Homo sapiens: one gene and its partners. The protein of the gene in region 1 purifies or fractionates together with the protein of each later gene. This does not show direct contact. Each region holds a gene or a part of one and is shown in the gene's direction. Other genes may lie near its edges. The genes, in order: TMCC3, RNPEPL1 and POC1A.

What was found.
Region 2: the proteins of TMCC3 (region 1) and RNPEPL1 purify together in Homo sapiens (affinity purification with mass spectrometry; one large-scale study listed by BioGRID and IntAct). This does not show direct contact.
Region 3: the proteins of TMCC3 (region 1) and POC1A purify together in Homo sapiens (affinity purification with mass spectrometry; one large-scale study listed by BioGRID and IntAct). This does not show direct contact.

What each region holds. Positions count from the first base shown.
Region 1 is NC_000012.12:94,581,034-94,584,682, reverse strand, and holds part of TMCC3 (transmembrane and coiled-coil domain protein 3), read left to right. Parts: intron 1-2,144; coding exon 2,145-3,061; intron 3,062-3,649.
Region 2 is NC_000002.12:240,574,900-240,578,548, forward strand, and holds part of RNPEPL1 (aminopeptidase RNPEPL1), read left to right. Parts: intron 1-130; coding exon 131-243; intron 244-602; coding exon 603-711; intron 712-1,635; coding exon 1,636-1,866; intron 1,867-1,948; coding exon 1,949-2,091; intron 2,092-2,699; coding exon 2,700-2,993; 3' UTR 2,994-3,649. UniProt on the Homo sapiens protein: Broad specificity aminopeptidase which preferentially hydrolyzes an N-terminal methionine, citrulline or glutamine.
Region 3 is NC_000003.12:52,074,726-52,078,223, reverse strand, and holds the end of POC1A (POC1 centriolar protein homolog A), read left to right. Parts: intron 1-2,238; coding exon 2,239-2,337; 3' UTR 2,338-2,998; downstream 2,999-3,498.

The sequences.
Region 1 (3,649 bases):
AAGAGCTAATGCTAACGAATGTTTGTAAGTTGTGGAGGAGGCCTGACCCGCCCATCTAGGATGGTGTCCCACTGTGCTGCTGTGCTCCCTCCTCTGGAATAAAGCACTGGGCAGGATTTATAACGTGGTGAAGTGTTAATACCCGTTGTTGGATATGGTCCATATTCAAGTCTGGATCACCTAGAGCATTAGTCTGTTCTCACATTGCTATAAAGAAATACCTGAATCCTGATAATTTATAAGAAAAGAAGTTTAATTGGCTCACGGTTCTGCAGGCTGTGTACAGGAAGCATGGCTTCCTCTGGTTCTGGGGAGGCTGCGGGGAGCTTTTACTCATGGTGGAAGGCAGAGCGGGAGCAGGCACTTCCCACGGCGAAAGCAGGAGGATGCCTGCAAGAGACGGGAGGTGCTACACACTTTTAAACAACCAAATCTCAGGAGGACTCACTACCATGAGAACAGCAGCAGAGGGATGTTGCTAAACCATTCATGAGAAATCCGCCCCCATGATTCGATCACCTCCCACCAGGCCTCACCTCCAACACTGGGGATTACAATTGAACATGAGATTTGGATAGGGACACAGATCCAAACCATATCACTTAGTGGGAGATTCATTAATTTTTTACTAATTTTTTTGCTGTCAGCCCACTAATTCCTTAAAAAAAAAGGTAACATGCTGAATATTGTCTTGCTTCTCATTTGATTTCTATTAAGACTGTATATCAAGTCATTAATCTAATCAAAGGGATATTGACAAATGAGATGCTTCAGTTTGGATCTTAAGACTTGTTTGTAGATTGTGTTTGAACTCTACAAAGAGCTGTTTTTCATCCTCCAGGAACATCAACAATGGAGTGACCTGACATGGAAAGAGGGTTACAGTTAGGATGACTTGGATTCAAATCCTGGCCTTAACCCTTGGTGTCTACATGTTTATGAATCTAGCATGTTCTTTGTCTGGCATGGTAGTGAAGTGAGACAACCCATGAGAGGCATCCATAGACCCTGGGATATGGTCTACTTCTGCCTTTTCCTTTTAGAGCACAAACTTGCCACCCCCTTCACCAGGAAACTCAATGCTGCGTTGCAGTTCTTTTCCCTAAATGGCCCTTGAGTGAGAAAACTATTTTATGTGGTCTTAGTTTTCTCATTATTTTATTTATTTATTTTTTGAGACAGAGTCTCACTCTGTTGCCCAGTCTAGATAGAGTACAGTGGTGTGATCTCGGCTCACTGCAACCTCCACCTTCCGGGTTCAAGTGATTCTCCTGCCTCAGCCTCCCGAGTAGCTGGGATTACAGGTGCCCACCACCATGCCCAACTAATTTTGTATTTTTAGTAGAGATGGGGTTTCACCATGTTAGCCAGGCTGGTCTCAAACTCCCGACTTCAGGTGATCCACCTGCCTGGGCCTCCCAAAGTGCTGGGATTATAGGTGTGAGCCACCTCGCCCAGCAGCGCCACGCCCCCACCCCCCGGCCTTTTTTTTTTTTAATATCACTGTGGTGTGGTTTGAGGTTGTTTCCATATCTAAATACTGTTGTATTACCCAATTATTAAAGTTAATCTTGTACCATATTATTCTATCACATCTATTTAATGATTCCATTAAGAAAATAATGTTCTTGTTTGATGGATGTACCTGCTCGTATCTTTTTCCCTATTTTTCCCCATCTTTCTTTTTTAAAAAAAAAAAAAAAAAAAAAAAAAAAAAGATTCTCCTTCTATTAAGTGAGTGAGTTCTGAGTTGGATGCGTTCCCCATAGTGGTGAAGTTCCCAGTGAATGTGGTATGGCAGGCATTCCAGTTACCTGGGCACTTTGGGAGACCGGGACTGACTGGTGACCTCATTCTATTTTGCGTTTTCTACCCTGGGAGCCAGGTTACAGTCTCATTACACAAAAAAAGTGGATACCCTGGGAGATCTGAATCTCACAGCTACTTAGTGTAGATGGATGCAGGAAGGAGCCAGGCTGCCTCTATGTTCAACTGGAGGGGACAGCAGGGGGATTTTATCCCGTGACACTTGTAGTTCGAAAAACTGGGACTTCATGTATGTATCTTGTATGTGCATAGATTCTGTCACAGTAATTATCTCTTTGACTTCAAATTTTAATGTGCTTCTTTCCTGTCTCTTTCAGGTAGAACGTCATGACATGAATACCTTAAGCCTGCCCCTGAACATACGCCGAGGGGGGTCAGACACCAACCTCAACTTTGATGTCCCGGATGGCATCCTGGACTTCCACAAGGTCAAACTCACTGCAGACAGCCTGAAGCAAAAAATTCTAAAGGTAACAGAGCAGATAAAAATTGAGCAAACATCGCGCGATGGGAATGTTGCGGAGTATCTGAAACTAGTGAACAACGCAGACAAGCAGCAGGCGGGACGTATCAAGCAAGTCTTTGAGAAGAAGAATCAGAAATCAGCTCACTCCATCGCCCAGCTGCAGAAGAAGTTAGAGCAGTATCATCGAAAGCTCAGAGAGATCGAGCAGAATGGAGCCTCTAGGAGCTCAAAGGACATTTCCAAAGACCACCTGAAGGATATACATCGCTCTTTGAAAGATGCCCACGTGAAATCTCGAACTGCCCCCCATTGCATGGAGAGCAGCAAATCGGGCATGCCAGGGGTCTCACTTACTCCACCTGTGTTCGTTTTCAATAAGTCCAGAGAGTTTGCCAACCTGATCCGGAATAAGTTTGGCAGCGCCGACAACATTGCTCACTTGAAAAATTCCTTAGAGGAGTTTAGGCCAGAGGCGAGTGCCAGGGCCTACGGGGGCAGCGCTACCATCGTGAACAAACCCAAGTATGGCAGTGATGATGAATGTTCGAGTGGCACGTCAGGCTCGGCCGACAGTAACGGAAACCAGTCGTTTGGGGCTGGTGGAGCCAGCACACTGGACAGCCAGGGCAAGCTCGCCGTGATCCTGGAGGAACTGAGGGAGATCAAGGATACCCAAGCTCAGCTGGCTGAGGACATCGAGGCACTGAAGGTGCAGTTTAAGAGAGAATATGGTTTTATTTCTCAGACCCTGCAAGAGGAAAGATACAGGTATTTCAAAGTATTCCATTGGCGTGTTTTTTATTTTTTATTTATTTATTTTTTTATTTTATGTTATTTTATTTTTTCATTTTGAAAACTTTTTTATTACCACGGATACTTAGTGGGTACGTGATAGGTGTGGCATTCTTTTAAAAGGATGAGTTACTGCAGAGAGATTGCTTGAAATAAGAATGCCTTATGGTTACATTTTCAATAAATATGGATATGGATTAAAGGGCGTTTAGCAATCAATACATCCCTAATGTATTGATGCATCCCTCATGCAAAACTCTGAAATCCAGAATGTTCCCAAATCTGAAACTTTTGGAGTGTCAGCACAATGCCACAACTGGAAAATTCCACAAATAAATACTTAACACAAACTTGAGGCACAAAATTATTTAAAATATGGTACACTTTTACCTTCAAGCTATGTGTATATGATGCATAGGAAACAAATGAATTTTGTCTTTAGACTTGGGTCCCATTTTTGAGGTATCTCCGTATATATATGCAAATATTCCAAAATCTGAAAAAAATCAAAATCTGAAACACTTCTGGTCCCAAGCATTTCAGATAAGGGATACCCAATAATTT
Region 2 (3,649 bases), on another chromosome or scaffold:
CACATCTGGACATGTGAGGGACAGTGGCGCTTGGCCCTTGCTGCTCCTCGGAGCCTGACCACTGCCCCTCCCTATTCCACGGGACACTGGTGGTTTCGGACGCCAGCCCAGGTGGGTGTTCACCTTGCAGGAGTGAATCCCAGCCACCTGATGAACCTGTTCACCTACGAGAAGGGCTACTGCTTCGTGTACTACCTGTCCCAGCTCTGCGGAGACCCACAGCGCTTTGATGACTTTCTCCGAGTGAGCAGCCCCCTGCCCGGGACGGCCCTGCTGCCATCTGCCCCCAGCCCCTCCCCGGCTCACAGGGCTGCCTGCTCTTGCGGCAGTTGGGGTGGAACTGGCAGGGGCCTGTGAGCCTGGCTGGGACCTAGTCTGCCTTTCTTTGTGGGGAGTGCCTGGGTTGCCACCTCCCCTTCTGCCACCCTGTTTGCTCCCTTGGCAGGGCCTGCGTGCCAAGTGCTGGCTCCGCAGTGCCCACTAGCTGCCCCTGTGCCCAGCACGTACCTTGGCGCACGCCCTGCAGTGCCCTGCAGGCCTCTGGTGGGGCTGCCTGTGCCCCACCCTTCCAGGCCTGCTGAGGCCCCACCTCTGCCACACAGGCCTATGTGGAGAAGTACAAGTTCACCAGCGTGGTGGCCCAGGACCTGCTGGACTCCTTCCTGAGCTTCTTCCCGGAGCTGAAGGAGCAGAGCGTGGACTGCCGGGCAGGTGAGGCTGACCCCCAACCCTGCAGCCAGGGAGCCGTGGGTATGATGGCAGGCGGGGCCTCTGCTGCCTGAGGGGCCACTCCACCTGGAGGAAAGCCCTGTCAGTTCACTGTCTGTCCTTCAGCCAACCCTTGCTGGACCATGTGGGCCCCAGGCTGGTATGCTATGAGAACAGGGCTGGGGTTGGGGGCCTCCCTGGGGCCGGTGGCACAGGCTAAGCAGGCCGAGTCAGGCACTCCCAGGAAGCGGGCCATGGAAACCAGGTGTGCAAAGGGCCTGGTGCAGGAAGGGCGGGTGACGGGGGTGTCCTGGAGCTGGAGAACAGCAGCCAGCCCTGTTTATGTGTCACTTGTAAAGGTGTCCCTGAGGGTCTGAGGGCTTGGGGCCCAGGAAGGCACTGCAGGGTTCAGACATTGAGGGAGAGGCCAGAATTGCTGGAGGGTGGTGAGGTGCCACTGGGAGGGCTGTGCATGGTGACACCAAGTTTTGGAAGGTACAGCAAGTGCATCAAGAGCTTTTTGTGGGTAGGGAATGGGCACTGCCCTTTAAGAGCAGGAATATCATCTTAAGAGCCTGTTGCCCCCATCCCGCCCCTGCTGGTTCATGGCGCAGGTGGCCTCCACCAGCACTGAGGTTGGGTTTAGACTACTTCATTGTCTTCCACCCAGGAGAGGCGTGGAGTGGGTGCGAGTCCCTTGGTCACCAACCCAAGTCTCTGCTTCCCTGTACCCCTTCACAGAAGCCCCTTCAGTGGCTTCAAGTGGCAGTGCTGGCTGGAGCTGACTCCGCCTTCCTGAACAGCCCACGTCCCTGGAACAGGCCACCTGCCTGGAACACACTCAGGGTCTGGGGTCTCCTGGGCAGATTGCTCAGGCAGCCCCTTCCTAGCCTGGGCAGGGACCCCAGGGTCACTTCTCCCCTCTAGGGCTGGAATTCGAGCGCTGGCTCAATGCCACAGGCCCGCCGCTGGCTGAGCCGGACCTGTCTCAGGGATCCAGCCTGACCCGGCCCGTGGAGGCCCTTTTCCAGCTGTGGACCGCAGAACCTCTGGACCAGGCAGCTGCCTCGGCCAGCGCCATTGACATCTCCAAGTGGAGGACCTTCCAGACAGCACTCTTCCTGGACCGGCTCCTGGATGGGTCCCCGCTGCCGCAGGGTGAGTCCCTGCAGCTGATGGGGGCGGCCCAGGGGCTGGGGTGCAACAGCGGCCCAGCCCTGACCTGCCCCCTGCGCTGCAGAGGTGGTGATGAGCCTGTCCAAGTGCTACTCCTCCCTGCTGGACTCGATGAACGCTGAGATCCGCATCCGCTGGCTGCAGATTGTGGTCCGCAACGACTACTATCCTGACCTCCACAGGGTGCGGCGCTTCCTGGAGAGCCAGGTGCGGTCACCTGCCCAGGGGGCCAGCCTGGAACGGCCTAGCCGTGCGGACTGGGAGTCCCACCCGACTCCCTAGTCTGAGCCCTTGGGGCAGGCCAGGCACATTCTGGAGAATGGGGCGGGGAAGACGTAGGGGTCTGTTGGGAGTGGGGGCATGCACCGGGTGCAGGTACCAGAGGGCAGCCTGGACTCCACCAGTTCTTGGAGAAACTGTGGAAGGGACCAGCTGGGAGCAGGAGTTTAGGGTCCAGGCCACCACAGCCTGCTGGGCCCTGGGCCTTCAGCGTCCTGGTCTGGGCAGAGGGGACGTCCCAGCTCCTCAGAGGGAGGCCAGAGCCCTCAGGCCCGTGGGCCCTGGCTGCCCTGCTCCCTGTATGTGCTCCCTCCAGCCCAGGTTCCCTGGAGATGGGGCCTCCATGGTTGGCCTGGAAGGGCAGGGTGGAGGTGGGAGGCTAATGGTAGGCCTCCTGGCCACCGGAGTCCAGGCCACAGCCCTAATGATGAAGCTGGGAAGCCAGGGGCAGGAGGGCCGCCTGGCCGGGCTGGCAGGGTGGGCTGGCTCGAGGGGCCTGGGGAGCCCACCAGTGTGACCGAGTGCCCCTCCTGCAGATGTCACGCATGTACACCATCCCGCTGTACGAGGACCTCTGCACCGGTGCCCTCAAGTCCTTCGCGCTGGAGGTCTTCTACCAGACGCAGGGCCGGCTGCACCCCAACCTGCGCAGAGCCATCCAGCAGATCCTGTCCCAGGGCCTGGGCTCCAGCACAGAGCCCGCCTCAGAGCCCAGCACGGAGCTGGGCAAGGCTGAAGCAGACACAGACTCGGACGCACAGGCCCTGCTGCTTGGGGACGAGGCCCCCAGCAGTGCCATCTCTCTCAGGGACGTCAATGTGTCTGCCTAGCCCTGTTGGCGGGCTGACCCTCGACCTCCCAGACACCACAATTGTGCCTTCTGTGGGCCAGGCCTGCCATGACTGCGTCTCGGCTCTGGCCATGAGCTCTGCCCAGGCCCACAAGCCCCTCCCCTGGGCTCTCCCAGGCAGGGAGAATGGGGAGAGGGACCTCCTTGTGTCTGGCAGAGACCTGTGGACCTGGCCTCCCCACTCCCAGCTCTCTTGCACTGCAGGCCCTGGGGCCAGCCCGCACACACCATGCCTCCTGTCTCAACACTGACAGCTGTGCCTAGCCCCGGATGCCAGCACCTGCCAGGTGCCGCCCCGGGGCAAGGGCCCCAGCAGCCCTATGGTGACCGCCACACTGTGCCTTAATGTCTGCCGGGGGCCCAGGCTGTGCTGTCCCTGCAGCACGCCTCCTTGCAGGGATCTGAGCCACCCTCCCCGCACAGCCCTGCACCCCGCCCCTGGGGTTGGCAGCCTCAGTTGGCCCCTGGCAGAGGAACAAGGACACAGACATTCCCTCAGTGTGGGGGGCAGGGGACACAGGGAGAGGATGGTTGTCCCTGGGGAGGGCCCTCTGGCCCCAGGCAACCTTAGCCCCTCAGAACAGGGAGTCCCAGGACCCAGGGAGAGTGTGGGGACAGGACAGCCTGTCTCTTGTA
Region 3 (3,498 bases), on another chromosome or scaffold:
ATGGTGGCCACCACGAGGCACCTTGGCAGAGAAGGAACAGGGGAAGCTGAGACCAAACACAGAGATGACACAGCTCCTCTGAAGCTAGGCTGGAGGGGGAGAAACTGCCTTGAGGGGTGTTGGGCCTCATAAAAGCCTGTTTGTCTACTGTGCTGTGAAGTGATCCTCAAAGCTCTCAGAGGAAGGCCTCAACGGGGTGGCACCCTTCATGCAGGGGGCTGGTTGTGAAACAGGTGATGCTTCTCTTTTCAAATAATTTAGACACATTTAGTGGTCACATTCCTACTGAGCTGAAGTATGGGCCCCCTATGGAACTAAGTGGAGTCCCTTGTATTGACGTTGGCCCAGCACCTCACCCACGTTTTCTGGGCCCACTATCTCCACGTTTGCAAATTGGGTTCCTGTGAAAAGTTTCAAGAAAAAAAAAAAGGCAGAAGAGGAAAAACAGGCTCCTCTGCTGCGGCCTTGAGTTTGGGGCCATCGGAAAAAGTCTGGATGAAGAATGATTTTGGCCCTATGAGTTTCACAGCAGCCAGTGGAAACTTCCAGGAATGCTGCCCCGGGCCAGCCAGGGGCTGTTTCCGCTGCCACTTTTACGAGCTGCAGACCCCCTCCCCGGCTGGCTGGCCAGCACAGGGGGAATGTGATGGTCTCTTTCAGCTCAGCTCTGCCTCTTAGGGTGCAGTTTGTGTTCCATGGGCAGCAATTTTTCCAGGCTCTGTCCAGTGACAGAGGGTTCAGAGCCCTCACAGCCCTGATTGGCCCATTTAGAAGGGGCCAGCCACCAGGCGGAGCACCCTCCATGGCAGCTAATGTCTGTGCCGGACGCTGCAAGAATTTATAGCAGCCTTAAAGGGGGAGACTCCCTTCTAAAATGTTTCAATGTTTTATTAAATGTATGAAAGAAAGTTTCCTTTCCACTGGACCAAGGCCCAGGACTTCATGGAGCCCCAGGGAAGGGGGCAAAACCTCTTGGGAAAGCACACGGGTGAGGTTAATCTGACCCTCCTGATGCCTATGGGCTGCACAGTACCGGAGTCAAGGCTGCCATACTCACATGGGCTCATCCATTGGCCAGCAGGGGCCTGGCATACAGTAAGGCACTCAGCCAACCCTAAAGAGGGAAGTGAAATGATGCCAAAGGCGTCATGGCCAGCATGGTCCAACCCGCGCAAGTGATGAGTGGGGCAGGCTTGCTCTGGTCCAGCCCCTCTTTGGGGAGCATGCAGGCTCCCAGACAGTGCTGCCCCTCTGCTGACACTCTATCCAAAGCCAGAGGAGGAGGGCAGCTTTTCCCAGCCTGTCTGGGAGCTATGTCTGCAAGACTGGCCCTGGCCCATGAAGCACATGCAGCTCCAGCAGCTGGGGGCCTTTGGCAGGCCAGGCAGCCAGGTCCGCAGGTGAGCCATTGTGCTGGGTGTGTAAGAGAGGCCAGGAGAGCAAGGGCCCAGCTTCAGGAAGGCAGCATGATCTGCCTGACAAGCACTCTGACAAGCATGGTCAGAGTGAGCAACTGCTGGGCTGCTGAGTTACCTAGGCCATGAGCTTGGTTGTCTTTCGCACTGGGCGAAGGAGGAGAAAGTGGGCTCAGAGAGATGAAGTTGTCATGGCCTGTGATTGCCCTGGGCTGAAGTCCCACATGACATATCCTATAGTAGTATTCGTTGGACTTGGACAGGCAGAGACCCTCCTGGGATCAGGGGACTCACCTCCCTGCCTTTGTCCCCTGCCAGCCTGGGAGGCTCTTCCAGGTGTGAGGGGAAGGACCCAAGTGGAGTGCCATCATTTGTGGGTGCAATTTTCTCACCTCTGGAGTGGAGGTGGTTGATGGTCTCCAGTTGTTTATGGACAGTGCCTGGCTCAGACAAGGAAACTGGTTTTGCTGCAGAACTCCAATATAAATGCCAGGCCACCAGGGTGGGGGGTTCCTGACCCCTTGGTTCTCTTGAGAAATGACCAAAGGCTATGGGACCTGCCATCTAGTTTCCCTCACTGTGTCCCCACCCCCTGCCCACAAACATTATAGATCAGCCATCCAGAGCCAGGAGAAGCAGACATAAAGGCAAGGGCTATCCCAATAGCACCAGAGACAAGGGGCCTGGCAGAACCCCTGGGTGGAAAGAGCCAGCTGGCATTTGGGCAGTGGCTGAGGCAGCCAAGTGGGGACTGGCCAAGGGGGTCCCTAGAGCAGCCTGGCGGCCCTTCTGTGTTCTGACCCAACCACTGTTTATTTTGCAGACAGTCTCCATTCTGGAGCAGCGGTTGACACTGACAGAAGACAAGCTGAAGCAGTGTCTGGAGAACCAGCAGCTAATCATGCAGAGAGCAACACCATGATCAGGGGAGCAGGAATCAGGAGCTCGGTGGATTTGCAGGTGGCAGGCCAGGGATTTGTACCATGGGACTTGGGTAAATAAAGGGGACTGAACTCTGTGGGAATCACATCCATACTGGAGCCCTGGATTTTTGCAGTTCTGCCCTCCACCTTGCTATCTGCACCAGGAGGCTCTCCACCTGGCAGCCAGAGGTCCCCAGTGGGCCGGGCTCACACACAAATGATGCTTCAGACCCGAATGAGAGGACCACATTTTGCTTAATGTAAAGGAGCCACTTGAAAATGTCTGCTCCTTCGGGGTCCTGAGATTGTGGCTCCCCCTCTGGAGGAGGTGGCTCCACGATGCCTTGATTTTCACTCATCATTTGGACATGTGACTGGCTTTTCCTACCTCTGCCATGGTGTAGAAATTGATTGCACATTGATTGGATGAGCCGGGGGTTTTCTCTAAATCTGACTAAAGGCCCAAAGTGGGCCCATCTGAGTCAGGTTTGTTGAGAACAAGCCCTCTCAAGTGGGTGGTGGCTTTTCAGTGGCCCTGATTTCTGTTCCACACGTGTTCACTGGAGCCAGGTGACTTCCTCCTTGCGTGAGTGAGGGCACAGGAATCTCAAAATTAAACCTGACTTCATTGCACTTGTTGCAGGAGTGGCTTATGCTGGATGACACTTAATCAATCTTCCCATCCCCAGGGCCCAAACAGAATGAGAATGGTGACTTGGGACGGCCTCTGCCAGGATTGCCTCTGAGGCCAGGACCCCCCTGTTTGCAGCTGTTCAGGGTGTCGGGGAACAAGGGCAGTCAGAGCCCTTGCATGCACCCACCTCCCTCTGGCTGGCCCCCACTGACTGCTTCTGTTGGGACTCAGAGGCCTCAGGCACCCAAGTTTCCATTTGCTCCTGAGGGCTTCCATAGGGTCCTCCCTCTGCCCCTGTGCTGGGGAAGCCAGGACAAATGTTTTCCCTGTGTCTGTGTGTCGCCCGTGCCTTCCGTCTTCAGCTTCTTGGGGCTCAGCCAGCCAAGGAGGTCTTTATCCTCAAACACACCTGCCCTGCCCTGGGGAATGGGAGGTGGTGTTAGATCGTCCCAGGAGCTGTCAGTACCACGTGGTCAGTGGGTTCACAGCCTCTGCAGCCTCCAGGTGGAAGCAGAGCCTGCATGCC